Linked DNA regions of Homo sapiens: region 1 is linked to region 2. Evidence: fine-mapped expression QTL. A gene starts in region 2. The other region holds a variant in brackets. All regions are shown on one strand. Distances are between the middles of the regions. Region 1 overlaps KPNA7 (karyopherin subunit alpha 7). Region 2 holds the start of SMURF1 (SMAD specific E3 ubiquitin protein ligase 1).

The links.
Region 1: its variant is fine-mapped to the expression of SMURF1 in whole blood (TOPMed, PIP above 0.99).

What each region holds. Positions count from the first base shown.
Region 1 is chr7:99,168,501-99,173,871 of GRCh38, reverse strand. KPNA7 (karyopherin subunit alpha 7) reads left to right here. Exons shown (of 11, transcript NM_001145715.3): 11 at 78-300. The coding sequence ends at 164. Among named protein-coding and RNA genes, the nearest start is that of SMURF1, 27 kb to the right of the region's middle. The variant C/A (reference allele first, on the strand shown) is at 2,470.
Region 2 is chr7:99,141,963-99,147,333 of GRCh38, reverse strand. It overlaps SMURF1 (SMAD specific E3 ubiquitin protein ligase 1), which reads left to right and starts at 3,226. Exons shown (of 18, transcript NM_181349.3): 1 at 3,226-3,608. The coding sequence starts at 3,554. It also overlaps a transcript of KPNA7 not described here. RefSeq lists silencers at 2,965-3,464, 3,605-3,934, 3,995-4,044.

The DNA of each region.
Region 1 (5,371 bases), 27 kb before region 2:
AGGTGCATCTTGCCAAATGTGCAGTGATAATGTGCTGAGAATCCTGGAGGTATAACAGTGTCTATTCTCTCCTGAAGGAAGAAGATGAGAGCCAAACTTTACTGAGCCAAGTCATAGACCAAGATTATGAATTTATAGATTATGAATGCTTAGCAAAAAAATAGCCAAGCTCCCTACCTCCTAAACCAACAACCCAGTGCTAAAGGATAACTTCTTTAAGAAGCAGCAGTCCTCTATCTTAGTGTAACCCAAATGTGAAGCTTTTAAAACTTGACATTAATAAAATGTTCAACACTTTCACGTTTCTCTATCTGAACTTCAGATAAACGACTTGCATCTTAAAACCATGTGGAATTCATCTCCTAAGAACATTTGTTTAGGCTGGGTGTGGTGGCTCACACCTGTAATCCCAGCACTTTGGGAGGCCAAGGTGGGTGGATCACCTGAGGTCAGGAGTTTGAGACCAGCCTGGCCAACACAGTGAAACTCCGTCTCTATTAAAAATACAAAAAATTAGCCAGGCATGGTGACGCATGCCTGTAATTCCAGCTATTTGGGAGGCTGAGGCAGGAAAATTGCTTGAACCCAGGAGGGCGGAGGTTGCAGTGAACTGAGATGGAGCCATTGTACTCCAGCCTGGGCAACAAGAGTGAAACTCCTTCTCAAAAAAAATAATAAAAAATAAAGAACATTTGTTTAGTAATTGCCTTTTAAAAGGTCTTAAAGCAAAACCTTCAAGACAGAGTAGAATGGTCTTATAGTTATCCGGACAGACTTTTTCTTTTTCTTTTTTTTTTTTTTTTTTTTTTGAGATGGAGTTTCGGTCTTGTCACCCAGGCTGGAGTGCAGTGATGTGATCTAGGCTCACTGCAACCTCCGTCTCCCAGGTTCCAGTGATTTTCCTGCCTCTCCTGCCAAATAGCTGGGACTATAGGTGCCTGCCACCATGCTGGGCTAATTTCTGTATTTTTGGTAGAGACAGGGTTTCACCATGTTGACCAGGCTGGTCTCAAACTCATGACCTCAGGTGATCCACATGTCTCAGCCTCCTAAAGTGCTGGGATTACAGGCGTGAGCCAACATGCCTGGTCTCTACACAGACTTCGACTTGCAGATACAATATCATTGGTTCTTAGTGCTGCAGGGACAGTGTTACTGGCCTTCTTTCCTCTGGCAATTAATATCCTGACACTGACAAGATCTAAGATAATTTTCTCTAGAAACTCAATCTCTCTTATTCTTCCTAGAAAGAAAGAGAGTGCGTGTGTGTTTCTATATTTCAAGGCAGCACCACCACATGCAGCTAACCTTTTAAAGAATTCTGTAGAGATGGGGTCTTACTATGGTCAGGTTAGTCTTGAACTCCTGGCCTCAAATGGTCCTCCCACTTCAGCCTCCCAAAGTGCTGGGATTACAGACATAAGCAACCGCACCTGGCCTACATATTATTTTTGAACCATGACTTTCTTGTATACTTAATTTTTATAACTTAAATGAACTTTGATACAATGTACATATTTTACAGAGCTATAGATATTTAAAGCAAAGGAGGACCCATGCCTCTTCCACCCCATCCCCAGAGGCCAGAACTTTCTACTCTTTGGTCTGTTTATTCTAGTCTATGCTTTTGTAATTCTAAACATTATGCTCATGCTACATCTAAAGACGATGTTCGAATTTACAGAAGAGATAGCCATTTTTTTATACCTCCCTTTCTTCGCATCGTAGATATCTAATTTTTGTTAGCTTGATGTCCAGATTTTATCATAATGATGTAAATTATATTCAGAAGTGTGTTTTCCTTAGTATTAATCCACATCTTCACTCATATGCTTTGTTTTCCTTGGGTTTACCTCATATCAAATTCTTACAGCCTGTGTAAACCTCCTGCTGAATGTAATACGTCAGTAATCTACCAACATGCTTGTCATCCACACCCACTGGAGAGCTCTGTCATGCTCCAGCCTGGAATAGTTGTCCTCATCCTCTGGTACACGTCTATTGTCCTGGGATCGGCTTTTACCATCATTGTGGGGGCTCCACTCACTTTTCCTGGGTCAGTGTCCCTGTTTGCAGGATCTCACACCTGCCTGTGCTTGTTTTCCCCTTTATTTTAGGGACAAGGTCTTACTCTGTCGCCCAGGCTGGAGTGCAGTGGAACCATCACAGCTCAGCTCAGGGCAGCCTTGCTAAAGCAATCCTCCCGCCTCAGCCTCTTGAGTAGCTGGGTCTACAGATGTGTGCCACTATGCCCAGCTAATTGTTTAATTAATTTGGCTTTTAAAATTTTAATTAATTTGGCTTTGGGAAGCCAAGGCGAGAGGATTGCTTGAGCCAGGGAGTTGGAGGCTGCAGTGAGCTATGATGGTGCCACTGCACTCCAGCCTGGGCTATGAAGTGAGACCCCATCTCCAAAACAAACGATCGCATGAGGAGGTAGGCATGGGATCCAGGAAACAGGGAAGCTGA[C/A]CTTGAATTCCTGGGATCAAGCGATCCTGCTGCCTTGGCTTCTCAAAGTGTTGGGATTACAGGCGTGAGCCACTGAGACCCACTGGCTTTTAATATGTATCTTCTGAGAGAAGGTGCATGGGAGGTTAAATTTCAGACACTGCTCATCCAAAAACATGTACTTTATTTTTTATTTTTATTTTTGAGACAGAGTCTTGCTCTGTTACCCAGACTGGAGTGCAGTGGCACGATCTTGGCTCACTGCAACCTCCACCTCCCGGGTTCAAGCGATTCTCCTGCCTCAGCCTCCCGAGTAGCTGGGATCACGGGCGCCCGCGAACACGCCCAGCTAATTTTTGTATTTTTTTTATTAGTAGAGACGGGGTTTCACCATGTTGAACAGGCTAGTCTTGAACTCCTGACCTCAGTGGGATTGCAGGTGTGAGCCACCGCACCTGGCCTTTGAAAACATGGACTTTGTTTTGACTCCTGGTTGACAATCCAGCTGCAGACAAGTGTTCTAGACTGGAAACTATGACCTTCAGAATGTTGCAAGCATCGATCATTATCTTCTAGTTTTCAGTGTTGGGTTCAAAGTCTTCTACTCTGATTGCCAATTATTTTGTGCATGACTCTCTTCCCCTGTCTCAACTCTACTGACTGAAATTTGTAGGTTGTGTCTCCAGTATTCTTAAATGTGCTGTCCTGAATAGAAACCTATTTTCTGTACATCCAAGTATCAGCCTTGCAGTCTAGAATTGTCCTTTTAATTTTTAAAAAACAGCTTGGAACAGTGGCTCACGCCTATAATTCCAGCACTTTGGGAGGCTGAGGTGGGAGGACCCCTTGAGTCCAGGAGTTTGAGACCAGCCTGGGCAACATAGCAAGACCCCATCTCTAAAAAGAAAAAGAAAAAAATAGAATTATCTCCCCTGCCACCACCATTTTTTTTTCCCACTGAAACGGATCCTCTCATTTTCTTGTCCCATTCTCTATTTTCCATCTTTATTTTTTACTTTCTGGGGTATTCTACTTTATCTCTTCTTCCAGGCTTTTCATTTCTGCAGTCACTTAATTCGAGACACTTTGTTTTCACAGGCTTCCCTTTTCAAGCCTCCTTCTTCATTAGCGCAAGATCCTATCTGTGCTATCGACCTAGCTTTGTTTATGCATTGATTCTTGGGGGGGTGTTTGTTGTTAGTTTGGTGTGCCTATGGCAAAGGCTTCCATCAGATGTCTGATGTCCTTGGATCTCTGCTTGTAATAGAAAGGTCCTCAGGCTGTGAGCGGGGCCTGTCATTGGTGGATATCTGCTGGGTGACCCCACAGAAACCTGGCCATTCCAACAAGTGATCCCAACGATCAGAGCTGCAGATTTTTTTTTGAGACAGTCTTGTTCTGTCACCCAGGCTGGAGTACAGTGGCACAATCTCTGCTCACTGCAACCTCCGCCTCCTGGGTTCAAGTGACTTCTCCTGCCTCAGCCTCCCAAGTAGCTGGGATTACAGGTACAAGCCACCATGCCCGGCTAATTTTTGTATTTTTAGTAGAGACAGGGTTTCACCATGTTGACCAGGATGGTCTTGAATCCCTGACCTGAAGTGATCCGCCCACCTCGGCCTCCCAAAGTGCTGGGATTACAGGCGTGAGCCACTGCGCCTGGCCCAGAGCTGCAGATCTTTTTTCATGGGCTGGTTAGTTTTCCTAAAGAGGAGTCCTTCAACCATTCATTTGTGAGACTTATGCTTCCCTCCTTCCATTCTCTGGGCAGGGCACAGGAACAAGGTCAGGTTATTTATCTATTTTTGAGATGGAATCATGCTCTGTCGCCCAGGCTGGAGTGCAGTGGTGCAATCTCAGCTCACTGCAACCTCCATTCCCAGGTTCAAGCGATTCTCCTGTCGGCCTCCTGAGTGGCTGAGATTACAGGCGTGCCCCACCATGCCTGGCTAATTTTTGTATTTTTAGTACAGATAGGGTTTCACCATGTTGGCCAGGCTGGTCTTGAACTCCTGACCTCAAGTGATCTGCCCACCTCGGCCTCCCAAAGTGTTGGGATTACAGGCGTGAGCCACTGTACCCAGCCAAGGTCAGGTTGTTCAGTAAGCAAAATACTCATTTTTCTCAGTTTTGCTCCCTCAGATGCTGTCCTCCCCAAGTCCAGAGTCCTTACACCTACCTTCTCAGGGACCTGCCAAGCTTTCAGCCTGGGGGCTAAAATTCCAATAAAATTGTTTCAGTTTACATTATTTTAAAAAATTATTTATTTGAGACAGGGAGTCTCTCTGTCGCCAGGCTGGAGTGAAGTGGCGCGATCTCAGCTCACTGCAACCGCCGCCTCCCGGGTAGCTAGGATTACAGGCGTGTGCCACCACGGCCAGGTAATTTTTGTATTTTTGGTAGAGATGGGGTTTCACCATGTTGGCCAGGATGGTCTCAATCTCTTGACCTTGTGATCCACCCACCTTGGCTTGGCCTCCAAAGTGCTGGGATTACAGGTGTGAGCCACCGTGGTTACATTAATGGAGAGTTCAGGATTGGAAGGAAACTAATGTCAAGGGCTAGATGTACTTTAAAGTTCTTTGAAGTGGGTGGCGGTGCCTCCATGTCAAAGGTAAGGAAACACAGCCGGGTGTAGTGGTGTGCACCTGTGGTCCCAGCTACTCAGGAGACCGAGGTGGAAGAATCGTTTGAGGCCAGGAGTTTGAGACCAGCCTAGGCATCATAGCAAGATCCCATCTCTACAAATTTAAAAAAATTAGCTGGATGGGGCAGTCCCTAGCTGCTTGGGAGCCTGAGGTGGGAGGATCACTTGAGCCCAGGAGGTTGAGGCAGCTGTGAGCCATGATCCTGCCACCACACCCCAGCCTGGGGGACAGAGCCAGACCCTATCTCTTAAAAAAGAAAAAATAAGGAAACAAGT
Region 2 (5,371 bases):
GGCTTTAAGCTCTAGATTAAGATCATCTGTGACTCGAGATGTCTCCATTTCTCTTCTTATGTAGAATTGTTCTGTCATCTATGTTCTAGCCTGCTATACACATCCCCATCACTGTATCATTGTCAGTTGCTCATGTCTGTTTCATCCAGTTAACTGACCCTCTGGAATGCTGAAGCTGTAATAGATTTATTTTGTATTCCTTGTTCCTAGCCACATAGCAGGTGGCCAATGTTTGCCGAATGAGTAAAACATGAGCTTCCAGGTAGGAAGGTCCCCTTTGTGCAGCTGTGGTGAAAGATACTATTGGGTATATCTAGCAATTTCAAATGGTCCCAGTTTATGACGGTTTGACTTACGATTTTTTGATGTTATGGTAGGAAAGCGACACACATTCAGTAGAAACCACACTTCAAATTTCGAATTTTGATTCAAAATTCTTTATAATAACTTTATCGTAAAATAGGCTTTGTGTTAGATGATTTTGCCCCACCGTATGGTAATGAAAGTGTTCTGTGCACATTTAAGGTAGGCTGGGCTAAGCTATAATGGCTGGTAGCTTAGGTGTAGTAAATGCATTTTCCGTTGTTTTTTTTTTTTTTTTTTTTTTTTTTTTTTTTTTTTTAAGACACAGTCTCGCTCTATTGCCCAGGCTGAAGTGCAGTGGCACAATCTCGCCTCACTGCAACCTCTGCCTCCCGAGTTTAAGTGATTTTTGTGCCTCAGCCTCCCGAGTAGCTGGGACTACAGGTGCACACCACCACACCCAGTTAACTTTTGTATTTTTAGTTGACAGGGTTTCACCATGTTAGCCAGGCTGGTCTCGAACTCCTGCTCGCAGGTAATCCCCCCACCTCAGCCTCCTAAAGTGCTGGGATTACAGGCATGAACCACCATGCCCGGCCTCCGCAAATGCATTTTTGACATATTTTCAACATATTATGGGTTTATCAGAATGTAACCCCATTGTACATCAAGGAGCATCTGTACTTGTTAATGAATGAACAAAATGCCTTTCAGAAACCTCCAGAAGCAACCTCCTGACTCAAAGATTAAGGAAACAGTCAAGCCAACGAAGAACCAGCCGTCGGGGCGGGGAGAAAAACAACAAAATTAAGCAATGAAAGGTTTCCAGGTCAGGAACACCTGGGGATAAGAACAGGAGCCTGCACCCAGGTAAGCAGAGAGTGATGTCTGGTTTTGTTTAGAGAGGAGACTCTTTGAATAGGGGGGAAATACTAACGGGATTGGCAGAAGAATGGGGATTACTTGGGAGCATTAGAGACTGGATGGATTAATTCAGACCCAGGCATTCACTCTCTGTGACAATCATCTACAAATGGAAACAGCTGGATTGTGGCTCTACTGCTATTGCTTAAACATTGCTTATATTCTTGGGTCTTTCTTGAGGATAACTGAAAGAGCCGCAAGGTGCCATAGAAATGACCTAGGACCATCCTTTTATTTGACAGATGTGATGCCTTGAATCCTGCCCAGGAGAGACTCTGCTTTCACTAGGGTCATCCGAGGCAGGCAGGCAGGCAGGCAGGCGGGCAGGCAGGCAGGTATGTCTAGGCGCTCTAGGTAGAAGGCTCTGTTCCGAAGACTGTGACCTTAGGACAGGCACAAGGCTGCAGGGGATGGTAGCAATGGCCCAGAGCCTACTTTCCTTGGGACACACACACACACACACACACACACAGTATTAAAAGAATTTGTTCAAGTTGATTGATGAAGAATCAAATAAAAATAAAAAAGAACTTGTACATGAAAATGGGTAGTGGGGTCTGGGAGCGGTGGCTTAGGCCTGAAATCCCAGCACTTTGGGAGGCTGAAGCGGGCAGATCACCTGAGCTCAGAAGTTTGAGACCAGCCTGGCCAAAACAGCGAAACCCCATCTCTACCAAAAATACAAAAATTAGCTGGGTGTGGTGGCTAACGCCTGTAATCCCAGCTATACAGGAGGCTGAGACACGAGAATCACTTGAACCTGGGAGGTGGAGGTTGCAGTGAGCCAAGACCGTGCCACTGCACTCCAGCCTGGGTGACAGAGTGAGACCCTGTCTCAAAAAACAACAACAACAACAACAAGGTAGTGGGTAAAAAACAAGTTTGATAAACCTAGTTTTCCCTCTTTCTAATAATACCAGTTTATTTCTATAACATGCTAACAGAGAGGAGTTTGTTTGCTGGAGAAAGCGCATAATGAGCTTTTTCTGTGTGTGTGTGTGTGTGTGTGTGTGTGTGTTTTGAGACAGTGTCTAGCTCTGTCACCCAGGCTGTAGTGCAGTGGCCTGATCATAGCTCACTGCAGCCATGAACTCTGGGGCTCAAGTGATCCTCCCACCTCAGCCTCCCAGTACCTGGGACTACAGGCGCGCACCACCATGCCCAGCTAATTTTTGTATTTTTTGTAGAGATGGAGTCTCCCTATGTTGCCCAGGCTGGCCTCAAAGTCCTGGGCTCAAGTGATCCGCCCGCCTCGGCCTCCCAAAGTGCTGGGATTACAGGCTACAGCCACCGTACCCAGCCATGAGCTTTTGGTTCTAACCTGCAACCCCGGGAGAAGGGGAAATTTAGCAGAAGACATGGGAACACAAACCACAATGCCACTTTCTTGTTTGGTAAAATTGTATGCAGAATGGATAATAACAAACATCCGCCTCTCAACTTTATCCCTCCCTCTCATCTCGTTTTCCTTGTCCGTATATGGCACTTCTGCGATTCTGGCAACTTTGTTATGGGTCAGTGGAGCACACCCGTTGCACAGAACACACCTAAGGGCTTTGTCTCTTTGAGAAGTCCCTCCCTTGAACTTGCACGATCGAAAGCTCTTAACTGAAAAAAACTGGTATTGCACGCCTGTGTGCAAGGAGCTTGGTGTGGACACAGCCCACGGTTTCATGCAAACCACTCTTCAGTCACTCAGGAGCCCAGAGCCTCGCAGAGACAGGGGTCAAGACAGAGGGCGACCGCGCGCTGGGTCCCGGGGCCAGCTCTGCTCTCCCTTCCCGGGCTCGGGGCCAGACCCTCCCACCCACCGACCACAGGAAGGGTGAAGACCCCAACCCGCGGGATCCGGGCCCCGCGCGCCCGAGGCAGGCGTGCGGGCGACGTAGCAGCGCACCCCGCCCCGCCCCAGCGTACGTGGCGGGGGCGCGCACGCACGCAGGCGCGGGGGCGCGCAGGGCCGGGCCGGCACGGCGGCGGGCGCGCGCGCGGCTCGGAGAGGCGGCGGCAGCGGCGGAAGCGGCGAGGGCGGCGGGCGTCCGGCTCTGAGGTGGTGGAGGCGGCGGAGGCGGCGGCGGAGGCGGCGGCGGCTCGGGACTGGGCTCGGCTGGAAGCAGCGAGGGTCAGAGCGCCGCAGCAAGCGCCGATCTCCCGGCTCGACCATCCGCCTGCCGCCCGGACGCCTGGGCCGCGGAGTTTGTGTCCCGGCTCGGACCCCGGCGCCCAGCCCGGAGCCGTAACCTTGAGGCGGCGGCGGCGGGGCCGGGCCGGGCCGGGCTGGGGGGCGGTGGCGCTGGATCCGCGGCTGCCCGATCGTTGGCGGGAGATGTCGAACCCCGGGACACGCAGGAACGGCTCCAGCATCAAGATCCGTCTGACAGGTACGGCCGGCGGGAGGCCCACCCGCGCCCCGGCGCCCCCTCGCCCGCCCCGGAATTCCCCGCAGGGCGCCCTTGGAAGCGGCCCTCCCCCACGCCGGCCGTTGTCCCAGGACCTCGTCACCCCCTTCGGCGTGCGCCCCTCGCTTCTCCCTCCTGGCCCCGCCCCCTCGCCGTTGCCCGGCCCCGCCCCCTGGCCGCTCGCGCCCCCTCGGTCTCGCGTTCCCTCCCGTTCCCCCGCACCTGCCCCCTCGCATCTCCGTCCTGGCCCCGCCCCTCTCATTTCCATTCATGGCCACGCCCCTTGCATCTCCTTCCCTGGCCCCGCCCCTCGCTTCTCTTTTCCTGGCCCCGCCCCTTGCATCTCCTTCCAGGCCCTTTCCCCTCACCTCTCCCCGGCTCGGCCCCTTGCCTCTCGCTTCCCTTCCTCTCCCTAGCACCTGACCCCTCGCTTCTCCCCCCAGGCCCCGCCCCCTTGCCTTTCACCTCCATCCCTGTGGTCCTTTCTCTTCCCCACCTTTCCTCCCCAAACCTGACCCCGCCCATCTCTCTGGCCCCACCCCCTCGCTCCTCTCTGCTCCCGCCTCCTAACTTTCTGTCCCCGCCCCCTCGCTTCTCCCTGCGTCCAGCTCCCTCGCTTCTCTCTGGTCCCGCCTCCTCACTTCTTTCCTAGCCTGGGCCCTCACTTCTTCCTGGTCCCGCCTCCTCACTTCTTTCCTAGCATCGGCCCTCACTTCTTCCTGGTCCCGCCCCCTTGCTTCTCTCCTTTTTTTCTCCTCCGCCGTTTTTACCCCCTCCCTCCTTCTCCTCGCTTCCCATCCTCTCCGCCCACCTGCCCCCTCGCTTTTCCCTCCTGGCCTTGCCTCTGTTCCCCTGGTCCCATCCCTCACTTCTCACCACTTTCCCATCATCTCTCTTGCTTTCCTGTTTTCCCTCCCACCTGCTCCCTCCCCTCATCCTCCTGGTCTTTCCCACCACTTCCAAGCTATTTTGCTACCTCCCCTTCCACTTGCCCCCTTGCTTCTCCCCTCCTGCCCCCACCCACCCTCTTCTCACTCCCCCATCCTCTTTCGTTTCTCCCTCACCCCCCCACACCGTCCTCCTCCCTTCTTCCCCTAGCCCCGCCCCTCACTTTCAAGCCCCGCCCTCATTCCTGCCTAGCCCCGCCCCCTCGCTGCTGTCTGGCGAGGCCTCCACCCTTTCTTTCCTTCAGCCTGAAATTCCTCAATCCTATCTTGTAGCTGCTCCCAGTCCTGCTCTCTTCACTTCCCCCTGGTCCAGCCCTCTTCAGTCTCAGTCTGGGCCACTTCCTGTCTCTTAGGCCAGACCGCTAGCTACTTTTAACTCTGCTTCTTCAATTTTTACCTTTTCTGCATTTTGTTTCACCATCACCCCCACACTCAGCAACCCAGAGCGCCGTGAGGCTCTGATCCCTACTCCCACACTCACTGGAGGCTTTGGAAGCTGCCCACACGCAGGCTCCTTGATTCATTTTGTCTTCAATGAAAAGTCCGTGTTTCCTGGGTGGCTCTGTAGTGCCACCTTCAAGGGTGAGCGCAACGCTCTGCCGCGGGCCTGCGACTTGGTGGCGCGGATGTGATGCCAACCTGTTTCCCCCCGGGCTCCAGAGGTTCTGGACCAGGCTGCATCCTCGTCTTCCCTTTCTCACTCTCATTGGTACTACTCTCTTTCCAGTTTCAATTCATCCCTAAAGCAGGATGGCCGTGTTGCAAATGCGGCTCTGCTCCGGGACTTTCCAAACTCGA